2 separate regions of the Homo sapiens genome follow, and region 1 is linked to region 2. Evidence: fine-mapped expression QTL. Tissue or cell type: blood mononuclear cells. Region 2 holds a variant in brackets; the other region holds the start of a gene. All regions are shown on one strand. Distances are between the middles of the regions.

Region 1 (11,367 bases), 55 kb after region 2:
GAGAAAAATGTGGAATCTAAGTGTGCGGCTTAATTTACATAAAGATCCCATGGGGGAGGAGCAGTGAAGATGTGACTCTCACAAGGTGAGGACCCTCAGGACCCCTCTTCTCTCCACTCCTGGGCATGTCCCGGGTGCCTGACCCGGTGCTCTGGCGGATGGAGGGACCTTTGGACAGAGAAGTGGTGACTCTCCATGCTTAGCATTTAAATTCTAGAATCTCATCTTTCTGTGGCTGAACTGAACACAGTAAATTGTGTTCTGAGCCTGCAGCTGCCTCTCACCGTGGGTCTGCCAGGAGCCTGGTGCCCTGCCCGGCTGTCCTTTGCTGTGGTTGAGCTGACACTGACCGGGAACTCACTGGGAACATGGCTCTGACCCACTCACCTGAGCCTTGTGACATCCAGCAAGGGGGACAAGCCTTTTCCATACGACCTCGGGCCCCAGCATGAGCACCCAGGAGAAGATCTCAGCGCAGCTCCTGCTGTGAGCTGGTCTTCAGACAGCCGCCGCCATGGTCTTCACGGGCCTGCTGTCCTGGCACCCTGCCTGGCATGCTGTAGCACACAGGGCAGTGTGTGCAGAGAAGGGGGCCCGGGACCAAGTGTCTCTTCACTCACTGCGTCTAAGTACTATGTGTGACAACGAAACAGTGTTCCTTGGCACAACTCACACCTGGAAGGAGTGTTTGCTGTGGGACAGATCACAAGACTGGGGGCGGATAACAGGATTGGAAAGTGGCCATCAGAGGGGGTGAGAGTATTTCACCTGGGCCCGGAGAACATGAAGCTTAAGCTGTTGTGCTCCTGCTCAGACAATTCACCCGCAGACGCCGGGCTGGGGAGGTGCGAGGCTTCTGTGGGCCTCTAGAGGGCAGACGCAGGAAGCCGTGAACAAAACACACGGCTGCACATTCAGCTCCACAGGGGAAGAGCTCACCACCAAAACCTCATTCTTTCAGGCCCAAGTCATTGCACTGACCACCCCCTGCCCAGACTCCCCTGCCAATGCCACACACATGCAAACGAATGCTATGCCACTCGGGGGTCTTCAGGGACACATAGGATGGGGTCCATAGGATGGATCCGTGGATGGGGATGGGGAGAAGGGAGGGAAGGAGGGAAGGGATTGGGGGAAGAAGGAGGAAAGAAGAGAAGGGAGGGAGGGAGGGAGGGGGGGAGGGGGGGGAGGGAGGGAGGGGGGGGAGGGAGGGAGGGAGGGGGGAGGGAGGGAGGGAGGGAGGGAGGGAGGGGGGAGGGAGGGAGGGAGGGAGGGAGGGGGGAGGGAGGGAGGGAGGGAGGGGGGGAGGGAGGGGGGGAGGGAGGGAGGGAGGGAGGGGGGAGGAGAAGAATGAACGAAGGAGGGAAAGAAGGAGGGAGGGATGAATGGATGCAAGGATGAGTACATGTATGAATAGGTGAGTTGATGGGTGGATGGATACATTGATTGATGGATAGATTTTTTAAATCGGCTCAAGTGATTGTGGGGCCAGCAGGTCTGAAATCAGGAGCTGAAGCTGCAGCCTTGAGGCAAAATTTCTCCTTTTCTGGGAAACCTCAGGTTTTGCTCTCAATGCCTCCACCTGCTTAGACAGGGCTCACTCACATCATCAAAGGTCACCTCCTCCACCTAAGGTCAACTGATGATAGAGATTAACCACAACCGCAATACCTTCAGAGCAATGTCTAGATGAGTGTGGCCACGTGGACATATAAAAGCAATCACCACAGGTGACTTGGGAGATGCCTGTTGAACTGGAAAGAAAAGCCACCAATTCGTGATGCCCTGAAATGCTCCTGTGGGTGGCAGCAGGTGGGGAGTGTGGATGTCAGGTACAGGCCGCCGTGTCTGAGCGAGGGTGGACTACACACTAGGGAGCCTCTGGGCCACTGGGTGACACTCTGAGAAGTGTCACTTGAAGGTGGCACCAGCGCACTTGGAAGGCATTGAGTATCTGCAGTCACAGGGCCCCTCCTCACGATGGAATGTCCATACCCAGCACTTCCCCTGGAGTTCTGTTGAGATGCTGAAATGACCTCATAATCATTATTATGATGTTTCTGATGATTTCTAAACTTGAGCAAACTTAAAGCAGAGAATGCAGAGGTCTTTTCCAGATGTTTCTAGTCTTTGTCACCCACCCCAGCGAATGTCAGGGCAAACTCAGAACTGCAAGGCTGCCCAAGAGTCCACCTGATCATCTGGGGCTGGGCAGTAATGCACGCAGTGTAGCACATGGTACACTTGTTTTCACCCAACAATGACTGTTCTAGTCCATCCCCGAGGGCTCTTGGCCTTGACAGGGAGCTAGGCATGGAAACCTTGTCCTGGGGCTGTGTGGGGTGGGCTGTAGCACTAGAAGGATATTCACACTGGGAAGACGGTGGGAACCAGGGCCTGGAGGGGTGCACAGAGGGAGCCACCCAACTGAGCAGATTCTAGAAGGTTCAGTAGCAGTTTGCCAGGAAATAAAGTTGAAATAAGTTGATGTCTGGTGTTTGTGGAGAGAAGGGGCTGGAAGAACAGACGCAAAGCCACCGGAGATGGTGGCCCCAAGCCCACCCCATTAGGCAGGGGGCTGAGAGGTGCTTGCATACAGCGGTGGCAGGGTCCGAGCTGCGGCACATTCTCTGTGAGCTTCATTCTCTGTGATGAGCCAGGCAGACCCAAAGGCACATGCCCAGGAGGGGTCTCAGTGGTGGTCCAGGGGCCAGAGCTCTGCCAACAGCCATGTGGAAGGAACAGTGCTCAGCACAAGGAATTAACAGGATCCTGTGACTGCTGTATTTAAGGATGGGGTAGGGATTGAGGTGAGAATGACCTCCAGGTTGGCGGAGGATTGCATTAGAGATTCTGGAGAAAAAGCGCATTTTTTATGGAGAGCGATGTTCTAGTTTCTGACATCATAACATTGGAATTCTTGTGGGACATCGAGGTGGAGATGTCTGGAAAGCATCTGGAAGTGAGTACGGAGCCCCAGAGCGTGCTGCGGGTAGATGTGTGACTCCTTAGTACCTAGGACACCTGGATGGCTTGGAAAGGGTCCCTAGATGACCAAAAAGGTAATTACGCCTTGTGAGCGGGGTGCTTGCTTAAAACGGCAGACACAGCAGCGGGTGCCACTTTCCTAAACACGAGTATCCATGTAAAGCTTGTGTGTTTGAGAAGGAATTGGGTCTTTTCCTCAGGTTCCCGGGACAGAGCTTCCAAAGCCCTTGGAATTTCCCCAGGGACAGGAGCGTGTGTATTCATGATGAGCTCCCAGCCATGTCTGAGCTGACGCTGATGAAGGAACACAGGATGGAGGCTGATCACTAGGACTGACCATGCGATTGTAGGGTGAAGTGTTTGGGCCTTGTGCTGTCAGCCTGACCTCCCTGGAGAGTTCAACCCCATGGACAGTGTGTCATCAGTCCTGCTTGAGCCATAAAACCCTGGTGAAAACTCTGGACACCAAAGCTCAGTAGAGCTTCCCTGTTGGTGATCATGTCCCTGTGCCGGGTGGTGATGGGCCCTGATCCCACAGGCCAGGCACAGAGGCTCTGCATTTGGGACCCTCCCTGACCTCACCTGATGTATTTCATTTGGAGGTTCAGATTGGTATCAATTATAATACAGCTGTATTTGTAACCACAGCACTTTCATCTGTTGTGTGGGTGGTTCCAGCAGGAGATGGAGCTGGAGGGGGTCTCAGAAACCTATGAATCTGTAACCAGTCAGAAGTGTGGATGGCCTGGGGACCACTGGACACACAGGTAGTATTAAAGTGAGGGCAGCCTTACTGAGGTCCATCCACATCTGTAACCTGCGGGGTCTGCTCTAGCTCCAGGTACTTAACAGCAGGACTGTACTGAAGTCTGCCTAGGACTCTGTCTCCTCCTCTGCTGAATATAATGTTTGCAGCTCCCACCCAGCATTCTGCCATTATGGAAATACAGAAGAAGCATTCTCACAAGCATCCCTGTTCTACACAAACTCAAGAGTGACACGTGGTAGGCAGCCTCTAAGATGGTCCCCAGTGGTTCTGTCTCATGTTCCTTACGCTCCCAGTTGATGCTCTGCTGTGGCATGTGCTGGACGCAAGAGCATCTGTGGATGGAATCCAGCAGGAGAGATGGCGTCCAGTGTGAGCTGGAACAACAGGAGGGTGTGGAGAGGATCCAGGAGGAGTGATGGCATCTGCATCTGGACCCACTGGTGTGTGTGCACAGGATCCTGCGGGGTGATGGCTGAACCCACTGGCGTGTGTGCACAGGATCCTGCGGGGTGATGGCTGAACTCACTGGAGTGTGTGCACAGGATCCTGCAGGGGTGATGGCACCCGGAGTCTAATCTGAACCCACTGGAGTGTGTGCACAGGATCCCGCAGGGGCGATGGCACCCGGAGTCTGAAATGAATCCTCTGGAGTGCGTGGACAGGACCCTGCAGGGGTGATGGCATCGGAATCTGAACTAAACCCACTCGAATGTGTGCGCAGGATCCCGCAGGGGCGATGGCACCCGGAGTCTAATCTGAACCCACTGGAGAGTGTGCGCAGGATCCCGCAGGGGCGATGGCATATGGAGTTTCAGCTGGACCTACTCGAGTGTGTGGATAGAATCTTGCAGGAGAGACGACATGTAGAATGTAAACTGGACTGAGTGGAGTGTATGGAGAGAATCCTGCAGGTGAGATGGCGTGTGCAGTGGGAAGCGGACCCACTGGAATCTTTGGGTGGGACCCAAACTCAACCACTGCTATGTGTAGACAGGATCTTTGAGGAGAGATGGCATCTGCAGTGTGAACCGAACCCACTGGAGTGTATGGATAGCATCTTGCAGGAGTGATGACATCTGCAGTGTGATCTGGACTGCCTCGAGTGTGTGGGTAGGATCCTGCAAGAGTGATGGCATGTGGAGTGAGCACTGCATCCACAGGACTGTGTGGACAGCAGCCTTCAGCAGTGATGATGTCTGCTGTGTGAAGTGGAGCACTGTAGTGTGTGGGTAGGGTCCTGCAGGAGAGATGGCAACTGGAGTGTGAACTGCACCCACTTGAGTGAGAGGTTGGGATGCTGCAGGTGGATGGCATTTGGAGTGTGAACTGGACCCACTTGAGTGTATGGGTAGGGTCCTGCAGGAGAGATGGCAACTGGAGTGTGAACTGGACCCACTGTTGTGCCTGGAGAGGATCCTGCAGAAGACAAGGCATCTGCAGTGTAAACTGGGCCACTGGGGTGTGTAGCTAGAATCATGCTGGAGTAACGGCTTCTGGACTGTGAGCTGGCCCCATTAAAGTGTGTGTATAGGATCCTGCAAAAGTGATAGCCTCTGGAGTGTGAATGGGACCCACTGAGGTGTGTGGATAGGATACTGCAGGGGTGATGGTGTCTGCAGTGTGAGCTGCAGCCCTGGGGCATGTGGATAGGACTCTGCAAAGAGACAGCATCTGTGGTGTGAATGGCACCGGTGGAATGTGTAGAGAGGATCCTGCAAAAGTGATGTCCTCTAGAGTGTGAACTGGACCCACTGGAGGGTGTGGACATCGTCCTGCAGGAGAGATGGCATCTAGAGTGTGAATGGCACCTCCGGAGTGTGTGGATAGGAGCCCGCAGGAGAGAGCACATGTAGAGCGTGAACTGGACCCACTGAAATGTGTGGACAGGATTCTGCAGAAGATACGGCATCCGGAGTGTGAAATGCACCACTAGTGTGTGTGCATAGAATCCTGCATAAGTTTTGGCATCTACAGTGTGAACTGGAGTCACTGGAATGTGTGAATAGGATCTTGCAGGAGAGATGTCTGCAGTGTGAGCTGGACCCACTTCTGTGTGTGGATAGTATCCTGCAGGAGAGATGTTGTCTGCAGTGTGAGCTGGGCCCACCGGAGTGTGTGAATAGGATCCTGCAGGAGAAATGGAATCCGGAGTGTGAGCTGCATCCGCTGTAGAGGGTGGATAAAATCCTGCAGGAAAGATGGCATCTGGAATGTCAGCGGGAGCCACCGACCTCTGAGGATGCACCCCGCAGGTGTGATGCGGGGCCAGTTCCAAGGCTGGGTTAGGTTTTACCCTGGCTTCTGTGTTGTACTCTCATTCTCTTCCTCTTTCTTCTAATACCTGCTCTGGGAGGCATCAGGCCATGTCCAGTGTGCAGGCCATGGAGACCCACACGGCAAGGAACTGGAACCCCCTGCCAGCAGCCTCGGGGGTCCAGTCCTTAGATGGTGCCCTGTGGTCAGCAATGCACCTGTGACCTCCGGGCTATGTCTCGTGGTAGTTGCTTTTGTGTTTTAACATAGCAACAGGAAACTAGCCTATTACCCACCAATCCCATTCCAGGCTGCTTTCAAACGCAGCTCAGGCTAGAACACCAGCACGGGGACACAGCTGAGACTTGGGGTTTGCGACGGGAACACGCCCATGCTGTGCCTCTGAATCTGGCACCGTCACCCTGTGGCCTGGGTTCAGCAACTTGGCCTCACCTTCCTTGTCTGTGAAATTCAGACTGGGTCCTTGTGAGATGATTGGAGAGAATGTATGAACTATGTGAGAACGCCACCTTTGTGCGTATCTCACGCAGTGTCTTCCCTCCTTTCCAAAGTCTTCTGCTGTCTCTAGACACACCCGACGTGGGGGGGGGGGGTTCCCTGGGTCTCCTCCTAGGTCTGTCCCAGGAGGGCACGCACTGAAGGCCGCGAGAATCCCGGGGGCTGCATTGCGCCGCGCCAAGGACTCCACACAGGACCTTTCATTTTCCCAACTGTGCTGAGCCAGGCGGCCGGCAGAGAGCAGGTGGCTGACAGGCCCCGGGGAGCCGGACCGCCTGGGTCTAATCTTCCCGCAGACTCCCTTGCTGTGCGCTTTGGGGCTTGGGCCTCAGTTTCCTCAAAAGGAATGAGGGGCTTTTTTGGAACGTTAAATAATTTCCTACGTGGTTGCGGGTAGGGAGAAGGAGAAAGAGAGGAGCGCGCCTGCGCGCCTGGAATCGTGCCCGGATCAGAGCAAGCGCTCTAAAAGTGTTACAAACATTAAGGCGCCAACTAAAAAACCCGTAGTGAGCGCAGGCAGAAACCACGGGTAAGAGAAGTGGAGAAGCTTCGCGTAGGCCCCAGGGTCCCGAGCCCCGAGTCTCGAGCGCAGAATCAGGGGTGCCAATGCTCTCCTCCGCGCCCCCGAGCGCTCGCCTTGGCCATGCGGGCCGCCCCACCGGGATGAGGGCGCTCAGGCCGGACGCTGGGGCCCCGGGTTCTCGCCCCGCCCCGCCCTCGGGGATTCAGAGGGGCCGGGAGGAGCCTCGCGCATGTGCACAGCTGGCGCCCCCCGCCCCCCGCGCACAGCTGGGACGTGGGCCGCGGCCGGGCGGGCGCAGTCGGGAGCCGGCCGTGGTGGCTCCGTGCGTCCGAGCGTCCGTCCGCGCCGTCGGCCATGGCCAAGCGCTCCAGGGGCCCCGGGCGCCGCTGCCTGTTGGCGCTCGTGCTGTTCTGCGCCTGGGGGACGCTGGCCGTGGTGGCCCAGAAGCCGGGCGCAGGGTGTCCGAGCCGCTGCCTGTGCTTCCGCACCACCGTGCGCTGCATGCATCTGCTGCTGGAGGCCGTGCCCGCCGTGGCGCCGCAGACCTCCATCCTGTGAGTGCCGCGGGGGACGCCGGGGGCGCGGGGTCCGGGGCTTCGTGGAGATCCGGGAGCGCAGGGGTGATCGGAGGTGGGGGGCGCGGAGGGTGGAGGGGGCATCGGGCGCGCGGGGGGCCTGGGGACTTGGGACGCAGAAGGGAACCTCCGAAGGGGGACGTGGGGGGACCTGGGCGCGGGGACCCGCTGGGCCTTTGTTCGCCCTGCGGGAGACGCCGAGGGGCGGAACAGAGCGCTGTGCGCGCGGCCTTCGTAGCCGCCTTTGTTCGGAACTCGGAATCCCCGCAGGACTGGGAAGTTGTTGGAGCCTCCGGGGCTCCCCCCGCTCGCCTCCCGCCGCCCCCTCTCATGCTCCGCCGGCCTCCCGCTTCCCCCTGGTTCGCGGCCCCTCCTCCGCTCACCTTTCCCCCGCTCAGGACCCCTCGGTCCCCCTCCGCTCCCCGAGCGCGGCGCAGCCCCCTCCGTCCTCCCAGCCCCCTCCGCCCCGTTCCTCGTCCTGTTCGCTCCCCTCCTCCGCTCCTCTTCCTCCTCCCCTTCCTCCTCCTCCTCCCCTTCCTCCTCCTCCTCCCCTTCCTCCTCCTCCTCCCTTCCCCTCCTCCTCCCCCCCTTCCTTCTCCTCCCCCAGCCTCCGCCCTCTCCCCCTCCCCCGCCCCTTGGAGCGCAGTGCCCACCCCATCCCCCCGCGCCGGGGAAGCCTCCCCAGAGGAGCCTCAGTTCCCGCAGCCGCGGCGCCCCCGCTCCCAGTGCCCCCGCATCTGCCCGGAGCGTCCTCTCCTGGGGTGTCCTGGGGGCCCCGCGCTTCTCAGGGGCTTTTCCTGCGCCCGGAGCGAGCCGGGCGGCCGGGGTTCCCGAGAGGGGCCGCGCGGTAGTCTCGGGGCAGCCCGGGTCTAGATGGAGCCGGGACTCAGAGCGGGTTTCTGCCTCGGGCATTTCTCTTCTTTCGCTTCTAATCCACGCGAGCGTGTTCGCAGTTGCGCTATACGTTTAACCGGATGCGTTGCGTTGGGGTTGACACCCTGTCCTGCGGGCCGTCCCGCGTCACGGTCTCCACAGCAGGAATCCCCATCCCTCCGCCCCGCGGCTCCAGGTACCGAGATGCCGCCAGAGTTCGCTGCAGGCCTCCTGTGTTCTGAAGCGAGTCGGATTCAACATTTTCGGGATCTGTGAACGCGGGCTGCGTTTCAGGCGCCGACTCTAATTTAGTCCTGTAGCGACTTTTCTGCATGCCAAAAATAGTTTTCACGTTTCTTAGCTGAGCCAGAGGACTTTTTGGCACCAGCAAAGAGTCTGCAAAAGTTGTAAAAAAATTGAGTGAACAATTCAGGAAGTGGGCGGCCAGTGCGCCTACCTCCGAAACAAAGTGCTGGGACAGACCACGGCTCCCAGGGGTCGCCGAGTTTGCAGGCTGCTTCCTGGAGGCCCTGGGGCGGGGCGGGGGCCCGAGTTCCTCTCCTCCTCCGCAGAGAGACCAAGGCTTTCTTTCCAGAGCCCGTGAATGGTCAGCCCAGGCCGGACGACTCGGGGGCATCTCACTCAACAGCAGTGGACTTTTAGAATGGAGCCGGGTGAGGTTTCCCTGGGTCTGGATAATGTAATTCTTGCTGAGCCAGTGGAAAAATGGCACCTCAAAGATTTTTCCCATCTGGTCAGTTTCATAAAGCTTGCGGTATGTTTTGCCCCGGAATATTAATTGCTTGTTGAAAATAACATGTTAAAATAAGTGTCGTAGGACACACATGGGGTCCTCTGCTCCGCTTTGCATGGTGTGCTCGTCCACAAACGCCTCACCGAATTTGAAAAAGGAGCTGAGAGTAGACGGGTGACATCATCGTCCACTCGCACAACACTTCCTCATAGGGTACATTTGCATCCATTTCTATCTTAAACTTTCAGGGGTTTTTGCAGTCTTCAGTGATACTTCGAAATGTCGCTGTTGAGTCACGTTGATTCTGTGAGGCAGGTAGACTGGTAGCTGTTAAGTTGATCGAATCCCTTATAGAACTAAACACTTTACTGGAGAAATGAACATACCCATTTTCTGGCGGTGGAAACAGAAGCTCTGGGAGAGAAGCGCAGCTCCTGACGCTATTCCTGTGGCCAAGAGGAGGAGCGTAGCGCTGGTGGCCAGAATGGAGTCCTGGCTGGATGCATTGCAGCCGCGTGATTTTTAGCAAGTCCCGTGTCTCCTGGGAGAACGTGAGGGTGTAGCTGTGCGGACCTAGGCACAGTGGACAGGTGTCATGAGCGAGCGCTAGTGAGTGCAGCCTGGGGAGGCAGGGACTGAGGGAAGAGGGAGACCTATTCTGCGGGGATATCCTGTTGAGGGGTCTCTGGGGGCATGGTCTGGTAGGCTGTTGCTTGAGATGACACAGTTCTACATGATACATGCTACACGTGAAGCAACATTTCATGTCCACTTTCGGCTTTCTCCCAGGACTGTGCTCTCATGTATATGTGATTATTTTCTATTACAATTTTTTGGTAGAAATTGGGAATATACTATATATGAAAATTTAAAAAAAAACCTGCCCCAAAGTTAGTTGGCTCATCCAACCATCACACCGTCCCTTTGCTTTTAGAGACTCACCTCCATCCCAGTCCCCCAAAAGATTAAATCAGAGCCATTGGAAAACATCTTATTGCTCCTTCCCCTCAAATGCTCCAGGAGTGTGTTTAAGCGGGTCTGATACTGGGTTGTTTGATTTGTGGCTTGGGGGCTTTGGAAAACAGTGGAATAAGCCCATCCATGACTCAGTTTGGATCGACCTTTGAGCTCCCTCAGCTGCAAGTGTGAAGGGAGCTCTGGAATGGCAGGAGCCCGCGCCCTGTGCTGCTCGGTCGGCGGTTTGGCCTTGCTGTTGGGTCTCCTGCAGAGCGCCTCCCCTCTGGAGGCCTTACTTAGTTCAGCTGTGTAGAAATGGTTGGTTTTTGAATACAGAATCATTCTGTACCCAACACAATAGAAGTTCATCACAATGGTAGTTCAAAGCTAGTATTAAAGATAAAGTATGCCGTTGTACGCCCCTTCCTTTCCTCCTCTCAACCCCAGGCTTTTTGGGGAGGTCACATTTGAAACATTCTTCTTCACGGTCACGCCGCTAGGGTGCTGGCTGGACACACTGGAGCTAGGCCCTCCACGCCCTCCTCCTGTCCTGCCTTCCTCTCTTCCCTGGAGCCGCCACGGTTGAGGCTATGGTCATGGATTCATCAAAACTAACATCCTCACCACAGTCCAGGCCGCTGCAAAGCCATGAGTTGTCCCAAACTGCAGTTCTGTGACAGAAACCCTGACATTGGAGGGGTCTGGGCATGTGGAGCTTGGGGTGGGCTCAGGGAGGTCGCATTGCAGAGAAACCACAGGCAGGCGCATGGCAGCCAGGGCGGGGCCTCCTCTCCTGCAGAATCTCCAGACAGCTGCTCCTCATTCTCAGTTTTTCTCACCATCTGCTGGGTGTTAGGCCCACGCCGTGTGCTGGGTGTTGGGCCACCCACAGAAAACGAGACCGGAATCTTGCCCTCATGGAATCCCCAGTCCAGTGGGGCCCCCAGAGAGTCAGGGGGCTTCCTGGGAGTGGTAAGATGACCCCAGGTGTGTGCAGTCCTGGTGGGACGGGGTATGGGGAAAGGGCGCACAGTGCTTGGGACCCTGCACTCTTGGTGGTCTGGACTGAGTGGACCAGCCCACCTCCCGGCCTGTGTTCACATGAGCAGAAGGTTCCAGTGTTGCTGCTCTGTGGGTCTCCTCCCGCCTGCAGGCC
Region 2 (11,761 bases):
GAGGACAGCATGAGAGACGCCTGAACGTCCCACGTGTGTGTACCTGCAGGACTCCCTCTGCCAGCAGCCAGTACAAACTATTCCTCAACATGTGGCCCATTGTTCACCAGAAAGGTCATCAGCTTCTTGACATTGGTCCTCAAGGTCTGGGGCTCCTGGAGGCATCCTGTCCCCCAGGCTGCTCCTGTCTCCCAGGCTGCTCCTGTCAGTTTCTGCCTTCCAGAATACCCTGACCCACCCTCACAACCTCTCCCTGTGGATGCAGTCCCAAGCAGCCAGTGTAAGGACCCCGCTTTTGAGACACCAGGATAGCCAACTTTCGCTTTCTAGTTATTACGGAGCAGTGCTCCTTGCCAGAAAGAAAACATTCCCTAAGCCCCATCTGCATGCCGGGCGCTTTTCAAAATACTTAGAGGGCATTTCACCCCCGAATAACCCTGGATTAAAGTGGAAATCCTTAGACAATTGATCCGAGTCCACGTGCCTTTGTTCCCCATTAATGAAGGAAGTGGCGGTTAGGTTAGGTAGGCCAGTTCAAAACAGAAAAGGAAAGAAAATACGGAGAGAACAGATCTGCCAATCCTAGAGGAGGGGCCATTCACACCTGGGCTGGTCCACCTGGGCGGCGGTGGGCAGATCCCTGAGGTGGCCATCTCTTCATCGGTGGGCCTGAGTCGGCATTGAGGGCACTAGACATTCCTATTACTGCTGCACACAAGGAGTTAATTCACAAAAACAGGTGCTAACTCGGAGGGATAAAGATAAGCAGTTGGTCTGTGACTCTAAACTAGAGGAACCAACAACTGGGTGTCATCCCACCAGAAAGCAGCCGGGACACGGGCATTCCAGGGCCACCGTCCGCCCGCTGGGCCCAGCTGCTGCTGCTGGGCAGCCTTCAGCCAGGTCGCTGCATTTCACCCAAGTTTCTAGACACACAGTTCGTGTTGTGCTAAGTTTTAGGACAAACAGTTCCCCTTGCTGCAGATCCTAATGCACGCACGTCCATGGGTAAAAAAGAGGAGCTGCAGGTCACTGGGAGAACAGGTGGTGGAAGTGGGTCTTCCTAAGTCCAAGTGTGTGCTGATGCCTGGGGCTGTCGATTCCTGACACTGTTTGCACCAAACTGAGATAGTTCTTTCTTACCCCCAGAGCACAGTTGTGTGCCCAGGCATCATTTCCATGTCTGTGTAGCTAATCCAGGAAGGGTCCAGGGACCTTTCCTGCTGCTCATCAGGGGACAGAGGCACAGCATCCAATTCCTGCGGCTCTTCAGGGGACAGAGGCACAGCATCCAATTCCTGATGCTCTTCAGGGGACAGAGGCACAGCATCCAATTCCTGATGCTGTGGTACCATTCTTTGCATCTGAAGCTCTGTGTTCCTGTTGCCCTTGCTGTAGATGTGGAAAAGACAATCCCTCTCTTTTTTTGGACTGGGTCTCGCTCTGTCACCCAGGCTGGAGAGCAGTAGCACCATCTTGGCTTACTGCAACCTCCGCCTCCCAGGGTCAAGCGATCCTCCCACCTCAGCCTCCTGTGTAGCTGGGACTACAGATGTGCACTATCACACTCAGCTAATTTTTGTATTTTTGGTAGAGATGGGGCTTCGCCATGTTGCCCAGGCTGCTCTCAAACTCCTGAGCTCAAGCAATCCACCTCCCTCGGCCTCCCAAAGTGCTGGGATTACAGGTGTAAGCCACTATGCCTGGCCTTAAATATTTTACTATAGATGAGGTCTGACTATGTTGCCCCCTGTGTTGCTCTTGAACTCCTGAGCTCAAGCGATCTGCCCACCTCAGCCTCCCAAAGTGCTGGGATTATAGGCGTGAGCCACCATGCCCGGCCTTCTTTTCTTTCATATCCTGAGTGTAAAGCCTTTCCTGGGGTCATTTTTATACCTTCAGTGTAACAAGAGTGCGCAGCAGCTTCCCTCCATGTGAGGCCCAGACACTGTGTGGGACAGAGAAGCCACCGGAATCCACTGTGAGGCACTGACTCGGCCAAGAAGGACCCTGGCACTGGATTTTAGCGCTTTCTCTTGAGCATTTGTCTGAAAGGGAAGCAGCTATTCTAAATGTCCTTGAGGTTCCCTTCTGGCTCTAAAGTATTTTTCTTTCTTTCTTTTTTAAGTTTAGGGATGAGCCTGCTCTCATGTCTCTGCCCAACAAGGATCACCTTATTTTCTTTATCCGTGGAGTGATCTCATCACGCATTAGTACTCAGCTCTGCCTGAGCAGCCGGCGTGGCTGTTAGTGAGTCTCCCTTCAGAACCCTTTTGCAGAAGTTCACTGTATGCCTCTTAGCACCTTGGCACCTTGGCTGAAGTTGTACCATCAGTGGCTTTTTGGCGGGTAGTGGGGGCAGGGGCAGTGTTTAGGAGAGAAGGAAATAAGATAATGCTTTTTCTTTCCTTTTACTATCACAGCAGAAAGCAAGCTAGGGAAAGGAGCTCTAACCTCCATCAAGCCCTGAAAACATGAAGCGCTTTGTCAGGAACTTCACCTACTTATTTCGCTTAATATTCCTGAGAGCTCCAAACTGTGGGAACTCACGTTTCTATTCAGCTGTAAGGAAAAGGAAATTCCAGGAGGCATGGAAATTCCACCAAGCCATTAGTGAGAGTGACCAGCGCTGGCTGGGTTCACCATGGGACACTGGTCTCTCAAGAGCTACCAGGATCCTGAAGTAAATCAAAATCTTCCAGGACCACGCTATGCTAATTTGAGTAGGATTTGTTTGCTTCTTTGCTTTGGTGTCCAGTGGGTGGATTTTCTGGCTCTGAGATGCTGCTTTTTGGCTGGGCCCTCCCTGCTCAGGCCAGTTTTTTATAAAGGCAGTTTCTCCTGACAGCTTGCAGGCCAACTGGTGGAATGTATTATAAAACCCTAGTTGTGGCTGGGCGCGGTGGCTCACGCCTGTAATCCCAGCAGTTTGGGAGGCTGAGGTGGGCAGATCACCTGAGGTCAGGAGTTCAAGACCAGCCTGGCCAACATGGTGAAACCCCATCTCTACTAAAAATACCAAAAATTAGCCGGGTGTAGTGGCAGGCACGTATAATCCCAGCTACTCAGGAGGCTGAGACAGGAGAATCGTTTGAATCCGAGAGGTGGAGGTTGCAGTGAGCCAAGGTCACGCCATTGCACTCCAGCCTGGGCAACAAGAGCAAACTCCATCTCAAAACAAACAAACAACAACAACAAAAAAACCCTAGTTCCAGCCTAACCATCCACAAAGTGAGGCTCAGCTCAGAGGCCCCAGCAACCCCAGGGACTGCTTCCTGGGCCAGTCACTGCCCTGCTGCAGGGATAAGGAGAATTCCCACCCAACCCAGAGCTCTCCTCTCCCTGAGGGGGCTTCACGCCGAGGCGCACGTGCCTGGGGGCTCGCAGGATGTCCCAGGAATGTGGCTGTGGACAGCTCTACAGAATCAGTTTGCAGGCCCTCCTCTTCCACATACCCTCGTCCTACAGAATCTCATGGGCCGGGAATGCTCTGTGACCTGCCGGTTCTTCCTGGCACCGTTTCCCTGTCTCCCTCCTCCCCCTTACAAAGGAATGGCATGCTGCACAGAGCCGCAGTGGGCAGCCCCAGGACTGAGACGTTCCCAGGCTCCCACAAAGGGCTGTTGGTGACCACTTGGGCCTGAGGGTGGTCCCCCAGGACAGAGCAGAGCTATGGAAGTAATATCCACCCATCCATCACTCCCAGAACAAAATTAGAGATGAAAGGTTGTCATGGGACCCGTATCAAGACTTTTATTTGGATTTAAAATGACACTGACTTCTGTCAGAACAGTTGACCTGATCTGGCAGATCAATTAGATAACAAAGCCTGATAGGCCAGTTAGTTTGACATTTATCATGAATTCTTCAAACTAAGCATCCCAGTCCAAGGTTTTTGAAAGGCCTCTGCGAGATGGGATTCCTAGGAATGTGCTTGAGAAATTTGCCTGTGACAGCTGTAGAGGGTCGAAGCTTCACCACGTCCAGTGTTCTGAGGGCCTCCTTCACATGGAGGTGTTCTAAAGGCATTTGGATGCTTGCAGTTTAACAGAAGCTTGTGGGGAATGCTTCTGAAATGATACGTTCGTTCATAATTTAGTTGCTTTATGAATTGGGATTTTTTGCATTGGGTATTTTTATCTTGAGGGTATAACTTTTTTTTCGTTTCACTAAAAGCCGCATCTAAGGCCCAATCCCACTGATCCATCACTTTCTCTTACTCTCATCTTTCTAACGTCTTGGTAGAGAGGAGCCTCCACCTCTGTTCTGCTGATGTCAGCAGGGTTTTTGGGGTGCTCTCAGGCCTCGGCCTCTGGTTGATTGTACCCCTTCTGCCCTTCTGTCTGCAAAGCTTGAAAACAGCATCTACCCACTGGGAGTCCTAGGAGGCCTGGATACATTTTCCATTAGTTTTGAGTAAAGATCCATTGTGGTGCTGTGTGGCCAATGAGAACAGCAATCTCAAATCCTGAATTTTCTAGGGTGATTGTGTTTGCCAAACTCCTGCTCTCCTTCTGTGTACACCCAATTGTGTGAGGTCAAGTGGTCACAAATAGAGAGGAATCTCCTTCTCTTTGGCGTTGGCAGTGTAATGTTGCCAGTAACCAGACACAGCCGGCCAGGGAAGCAAGTGTCCAGAATGGCCTTTGTAAATATGGGCATCTGGGCCCTGTGCCCAGCTATGCCAGGACTGATCCAGGTGCCCCAGGGACCTCGGCAGGGCAGCAGTCACCCACCAGGGACACTCAGATGGTCAGGTACACACCTGGCCGAGGTCATCATTCTGGCAGAGTTTACAAATTGGGAATTCTGTTAGTTAGTGCATACTTTTTAATCATTCAGAATGAGATTTTTTATTTGCTAAATGTCGAATATTCAGAGAGCCCTTTTGTGGCCATCTCCCTCCGGCCAGCCCCCATGTCCCTCTCCCACTTCCCACAGCTTCCTGTCGGTGGGTAAGGTGAGGTCATCCTCAGCGTTTGCTGGACGGCATTTGTCGTTACACGTCTGTTGCCCATTTTCCGACCCAGAACCTGACCTGAGTGAGGGCGGGAGGACCTGGCCTTGTTGGTGAACGTACCTGCAGAGCCTGGCTCCAAGCCTGGGGTGTTTGCAGAATGACTGATGCAGACAGCGAGTCGAGAGAGAGAACAAAAGCAGGAGAAAACAGGCCAGGCTCAGCAAATCGGCACTCAGGACCAGGTGGTTTCTGCCTCGATACATCTAAGACCCAGGTTAACTGTCCCTGGGAGCTCGACCCTCAAAGTGCCTGGGAGTCTTCTGTGCGTCTCAATTGTTTGTTCCTTTTTGTAGGGGAACTTAGGTGGGGAAGGGGCGGTGGTAGGGAATAGAAAGACACAGAGATTGTGATGATTTTTTCCTTTCTAATTCAAGAGTCTATTTTCCAAGCAAATTCAATTACGAATATAAAAGGAACAAAGAAAGCTCCCAAAATTCTAACTCTAATATTTTTGTATATAACAGTTTTAACATACTAATATTCATTATTACAGGTATAGAAAATGATGAAGAAATCAAACAGTTAGATGAAGAAATCAAGGAGCTAAATGAATCCAATTCCCAGATGGAAGCCGATATGATTAAACTCAGAACTCAGGTAACAGTTTTTGAAGCCCTCAATTTTAGCTCTAACACGCGCCATTATACCAGAGATACATGGCATGAAATCAGCTTTTAGGAGAGCTGTCGTTTCCTCTTATTTGCTCTTTTATTTCCTTTATTTTTCCACCTTATGATATTGGTCTTCCGCAGACACCATTCCGTGGCAGTGTTCGCTGTAGCAGGGGCCGTGGTTCTCTCGTTTTCAGTCTGCATGTGTGTTTGTGTTTTTTAATAAAGTGCATTTGTGAATAGGCATTTTCAGAGGATCGCCTGTTCCTGCAAACAATGAAGGTTTTCCTTCCAAGATACTTCAGGTCCTCCTGTTATTTAATCACTATATTAAATGTATGGCGACAGCCGATGTTCCCAGAATTTAAAACAAGGAGTGCCTGCCACATAGGACTCCTGGGTGTCTGGGATTTGGGGAAGTGGCCCCAGTGACTTGCAGCTGCAGAGCCTGGGGATGGAGAGAGAGCAGTGGCAGCTGGCAGAGCAGCTGTGGTCACCTAACCCCCTCCATGCCCACAAGCAGCCCACAGGGTAAACGTCCTCAGCCTCATCTTAAACATACAGCTTCTAAGATGGAGAGGCAGCTTCCTCAGCCAAGCCGAAGCCACAGAGGCCAGGCTGGACCCTGTCTGACCATGAGCCTTGTGCCTGGCATCCCCCACCTTGCTGTGTTAGGGTCCCGCCGAAGTACACTCTGGGAGTGGAATTTATTTGCTGACCACCCGACCCTCACATTGCCCACAGGGTGAGCAGAGGTGTCCCTTCCTCTTAGAAATGAGGTCTCCATTCTGGCCCCTCCCCAGCAGGCCACGGTGTGATGAGGTTCTCGGGGGATGCTGACCAGCCTCCATGAAGGTTGCTCGGTTTGCTGGGAATGAGCCCCGAGAACTGGATGGAGATGAGGATGGTGTCACCGCCAGCCATCTACGTGATGATGCTCTCCTCCTAACACACTCCGAGGGCTCCCTTATTATCCCCGCTCTGTAAATGCA[G/C]AGGTTGAGGCTGGGGAAGGTTGAGGGCCTTTCCCATAGTCAGCCGGGTGTGGTCAACGGCTCTGCTCAACAGGTGGTTTCTACCCACTGGACACAGTTTTCCCAAGGATGGAGACATCCTCTGGGGCTGGGGCCCCACCAAGCAACCGAAAGGGATTTCCAGGCCCCCCGTGAGTACCAAGGATGAGGCCAAGGGTGGGAACTCCCCACCAGGCCATGTGGCTGCTGCCTGGGTGTTTTGATGCCAACCTACTTCCCCAGAGGGCATCACTGCCTTGATCTCACAGACCTGGTAGCCCCAGGGGCTGTGTTCAGGTCTTCCCAGAGTCTCGCATTGGCCTGGCTGGGGCTCACCCAACACAGGTTGGAATTTCCCTTAAGACTTACCTGAACGTTAGGCTTGGGGAATGGAGTAACAGCCTGTGGCATTCCTCACCCCCGGGACCAGCCGAGGCCATGGAGGCAGCATCTTGGACTGTATAGGAGACTCCATGGCTGCCAGAGCACTCAGGAGCTGCTGTTTCTGGGAGAGAGTAGGAGGTGACCAAGTCAGCAAAGATTGTTTAATTGGGACAGATCAAAAATTCACCCTTGAGTATTACTCCGTTCTCACACTGCTAATAAATACTTGAGACTGGGTAGTTTATAAAGGAAATGCGTTTAATGGACTCACAGTTCCACATGGCTGGGGAGGCCTCAGGAAATTTACAATCATGGCAGAAGGTAAAGAGGAAGCAAGGCACCTTCTTCACAAGGTGGCAGGAAGGAGAAGTGCAAGCAGAGGAAATGCCAGACACTCATAAAACCATCAGATCTTGTGAGACTCACTCACTATCATGAGGACAGCATGGGGGAACGCCCCCATGATTTAATTACCTCCACCTGGTCCTGCCCTTCACAGGTGGGAATTATAGGGATTATAATTCGAGGTGAGATTTGGGTGGGGACACAGAGCCAAACCATATCAAGTTGTATTCTGTTTATGAGGGTGACAAGCCTGAAAATCTTAATTTATTTCCTCCTTTGAATGGCACCTTTTGGGGCACTCTCTGATGAGGCAGAATGCCCTTGTCTGTCCAGGGTGTTGAGTCCATGGTCTACTGGGGCAACCCAATTCCAATAGGATGCCATTCAGGAAGGGGGTTCTTCCCACTTTCCAAAACCCCTCCTTCTGCAGTGAAGGCCTGCTGCTCCGTGGCTGTCCATGAGGGATAGACGGCAGCTCTGATGCCAGCTGTGGATGAAGTACTGGGGCTGGGGCTCAGCCGAGGGCTGAGTAGGCTTAGAGGTCATGCCGCCTGGATCTGAGCCCTAAAGAACAACGCATGTGCCTACGCAGGCTGCTTAGAGTAGGAACCCCAGGCACGCTCTGCACCTGCACGGGCGTGGCCTCCCCCTCAGGAAACACTCAGGTCTGTGTCTGTTCTCACTGGCTCCTTTGTGCCTTTATCTCTGAGATGAGTAGTTGCTCCTAACAGCATCTATTTGGACCTGATGTCAAAAATGAATGTGAAGAGTTCACATTTATTCTCACTGACTCGGCTGATGAGAGAGGTGACTTCCCAGATGTGCCCAGGGATGGACCTTCCTCTATTCTAGAAGGGATGGGAATGCGCTGAGCCGGAGTCCCCCAGCTCTGCAGCTCTCAGGGTCGGATGATGAGCTCCAGCCCAGAAGTTGTTCTGTGAGCACCAGGCCTGAGCTCAGAGACAGGCAGCTGCTGACTCAGGCAGCTTAGAGCCTGATGTTCTTTAAACAGGTTAGATCTGGAGCAAAACTTACCAGAAAACAATGTGCGCCCACAGCCAGGAGCCCTCCTTGCTGCCTGTGCCTCGGCCACTGCCCGGGGAGTATGGAGGAGGAACGTGGGGCAGGCCAGCTCTCCAGGGCATAAAGCGGCCCTGCCTGATGGCCTCGGCCTTCCTGCAGCAGCCTTCATGCCCCTTGCATTTTCCTTTAGAAGGTCCTGACTTTCCCGTGCCTCTCAGGCCCGCACACCCTCAGGGAGCATGGCCAGGAAGGGGAACTGGCCCAGACCCCGTGTTTTCTTGTCCACTCTGACCCAAGAGAAAGGCAGACTTCTCCCAGTGCGTCATGACATGTTCAAGACACACTGACACGAGGATGCAGACCTGTGCACAGAGCCCAAGCCAGAGATGACACAGGGCTGCAGGCCTGTCCCAAGCCCAAGCCATGAGATAACTGAGAAGTGGGTGCCCACGGCCTGATGTTCTCTCTGGAATGGGAGCGGAGGAAAGAACGGTAGGGTCAGTGCTCAGGCCTACAGCCCGGTGATGAGGGTCCTGCACAGGGAGAGGTCCAGATTTAAATCTGATAAAGAACAAATCCAAGAGAAGGAAAAAGGAAACTCCGTCCAAGCCTTTAAATTTCACACCTGTGCCGGATGGGGAAGACCGCCACGCCTGTGCCGGATGGAGGGAGACCGCCGCGCCTGTGCCGGATGGAGGGAGACCGCCGCGCCTGTGCCGGAGAAGAGGGAGACCGCCGCGCCTGTGCCGGATGGAGGGAGACCGCCGCGCCTGTGCCGGATGGAGGGAGACCGCCGCGCCTGTGCCGGAGAAGAGGGAGACCGCCGCGCCTGTGCCGGATGGAGGGAGACCGCCGCGCCTGTGCCGGAGAAGGGGGAGACCGCCGCGCCTGTGCCGGATGGGGGGAGACCGCCGCGCCTGTGCCGGATGGGGGGAGACCGCCGCGCCTGTGCCGGAGAAGGGGGAGACCGCCGCGCCTGTGCCGGAGAAGGGGGAGACCGCCGCGCCTGTGCCGGAGAAGGGGGAGACCGCCGCGCCTGTGCCGGATGGGGGGAGACCGCCGCGCCTGTGCCGGATGCAGGAAAGGCCTCTCCTGCCACTCTCTGCGGAAGGGGTTGCTTGTTACCTCTCAAGCCCAGGAGTGTTCTTACTAAAACTTGGAAAGGTATTTTTCACTGTTCAGTTGTAAGAATTCAAATTAGGACAAACGCAATTTTATTTAATTGAGAAGATGAGGTTTCCAATTTGGAATGTGTTTAAATGCTATTTGAGGTCCAATTAGTGCGACCAACACAATTCCTATGTGGCTGAAAAATCCATTCTTATGCTTGGCAGCTTGAAAAGAAGAGTCTGCGTCGGGGTCTTCACCTCACACAAACGCAATCAGAAGTCCGGGCCCCTGGCCGGGCACAGTGGCTCACGCCTGTAATCCCAGCACTTTGGGAGGCCGAGGCGGGCAGATCACGAGGTCAGGAAATCGAGACCATCCTGGCTAACACGGTGAAACCCCGTCTCTACTAAAAATACAAAAAAGCCTAGCGTGGTGGCGGGCGCCTGTAGTCCCAGGTACTCGGGAGGCTGAGGCAGGAGAATGGCGTGAACCCAGGAGGTGGAGCTTGCAGAGAGCCAAGATCGCGCCATGGGCGGGAAAAGAAAAAAAAAGAAGTCCGGACACCGGTCCCTTCCCAGTCTCTAATGCAGGCTTCCTCTGGGGGTGGCCCAGCACCAGCAGAACGGCCGAGGTGCCTGTGGGGTCTGCGTTTCCCCAACCCCATTCAACTGGATTCAGTGTGGCCTCAGCTTCAAGGGCTGAAGCACCCAAGCTGGACACACCCAAGCCTTGGTTCTGGACTCCACGATTCCCCAGACGCATCTCATCCGATTCAACTCAGTTCACACCAGAGCCCGGAGCAGAGACAAGAAAAGCTTGCCCTCGGCCCCAGGGGACACCCAGAAGTTGCTTGTTATCAGAATCCGGAAAAAAACAAAACTGCCGCTGAGGAGGAGAGAGCAGGGGACTCAAGTGCAGGGCACGGCCTGGGCAAGCGGCATTTGTGTGAACCACATGAGTGCTGAGAGCCGGAGTTCGAGACCCCACCGTGGGGGCCTGGAGCAAGGAGCCCGAGGAGAGACGGCGGGAGTCCTGCAGACACGGGAGGTGGAGGAGGGAAAGGAGCACTCCAGGCACAGGAAACAGCAGGAGCAGAAGGAGGATGGCTCGGAGCCGGCTGGGAGGCTGGGATGCTGCCCCCCGTGGCCCAAACAGCAGGCATTTGTCAGGGAGGTGGGGATGGGGGTATTTGAGTATAAAAGGGAGCTCGTGTTTTCAGGACAGGCTATTCACAAGAAACCCCCCAGCTCCTGGTGCGAGGGCCCAGATGGACCAGAGTGAACAGCCCTGTGCAGCTTGACTTCTAAGATTGGCAGGTCAGTTAATCCCACAGCCTGCACCACTTTCAGAAGATGGCTGTTCTCCCTGGGGCTAAGCCTCTCTGTGATCCAGCCTCCCTGGTCAGCACGGGCATGGGCAGGAGGCAGTCCTCCCTGCACGAGGACACTTTCCTTGGGGTTACACCCTTCCACCACCCCACTGCTAACGCCTTGGGATTCCCACCCATTTTACACTTCTTCCGGAAATGTTTTCTAAACACATCACGCCATCAAGGTACTTAGTCTAGACCAGGGATTGGCAAACATTTTCTATAAAGGACCAGATGGCAAATATTTTAGGCTTCTGGACCACGCAGCTGTGTTGCAGTGTGACAGCCTCAAAACACGTGTGAGTGTGACCCTGTTTCAACACAGCGTCACGTGGTGCTGCAGTCGGAATTTAATAGCTCTTATATGTTACAAAATGCTGTTATTCTTTTGTTTTTGTTTTTTTTCTTACCACTAAAAAATGCAAACGCCATTCTTAGCTTAGTCTTAGCTTTCAATGTCAGGCCCCAGGCTAGATTTGACCTTTCTCTACTCCAGGTGTGGTCAGAGACTGCGCAATCTAAGAAACGCTGAGGTCTGGAAAGACAGAGGGTGTGGACAAGTCTGTAAAAATGCGGGTTTGGGCCTAGACTGGCCATCAGGCTGCTGCTGATGCAGGAACTTTCTTGGGAAGATCCGGGAATGCACTGCTTCCTAGCAGCCTGAAAAACCTTTGATGTTTCTTAAACAATCAAAAACAGAACCCACCTTCGTCAGAGGGCTCCCTGCTTTACCACAGGCAACTCGATGTTTCTGGAAATGCAGACTCAGGTCCGCCAGCGCACATCATTGATGACGGCCGAGGTGGCCGGCCCAGCTCCCAGCCAGGCCCCCACACCCACTCGCGACACAGGCCCCTCCCTGCGTAAGCACCTGTGATCAGGGATGCCT

The links. PIP is the estimated chance that this variant, and not a neighbour inherited with it, causes the effect.
Region 1: it holds the start of PXDN, and the variant in region 2 is fine-mapped to the expression of PXDN in blood mononuclear cells (TOPMed, PIP above 0.99). The same link has a PIP of 0.9 or more in NK cells, T cells and whole blood.

What each region holds. Positions count from the first base shown.
Region 1 is chr2:1,740,495-1,751,861 of GRCh38, reverse strand. PXDN (peroxidasin) reads left to right here and starts at 7,347. Exons shown (of 23, transcript NM_012293.3): 1 at 7,347-7,606. The coding sequence starts at 7,407. It overlaps LOC124907724 (a long non-coding RNA gene), which reads right to left and starts at 1,135. Exons shown (of 2, transcript XR_007086189.1): 1 at 388-1,135. RefSeq lists an enhancer at 82-582.
Region 2 is chr2:1,795,552-1,807,312 of GRCh38, reverse strand. MYT1L (myelin transcription factor 1 like) reads left to right here. Exons shown (of 25, transcript NM_001303052.2): 23 at 5,514-5,617. Among named protein-coding and RNA genes, the nearest start is that of PXDN, 57 kb to the right of the region's middle. RefSeq lists enhancers at 2,708-3,340, 4,567-5,066, 5,067-5,568. The variant G/C (reference allele first, on the strand shown) is at 6,624.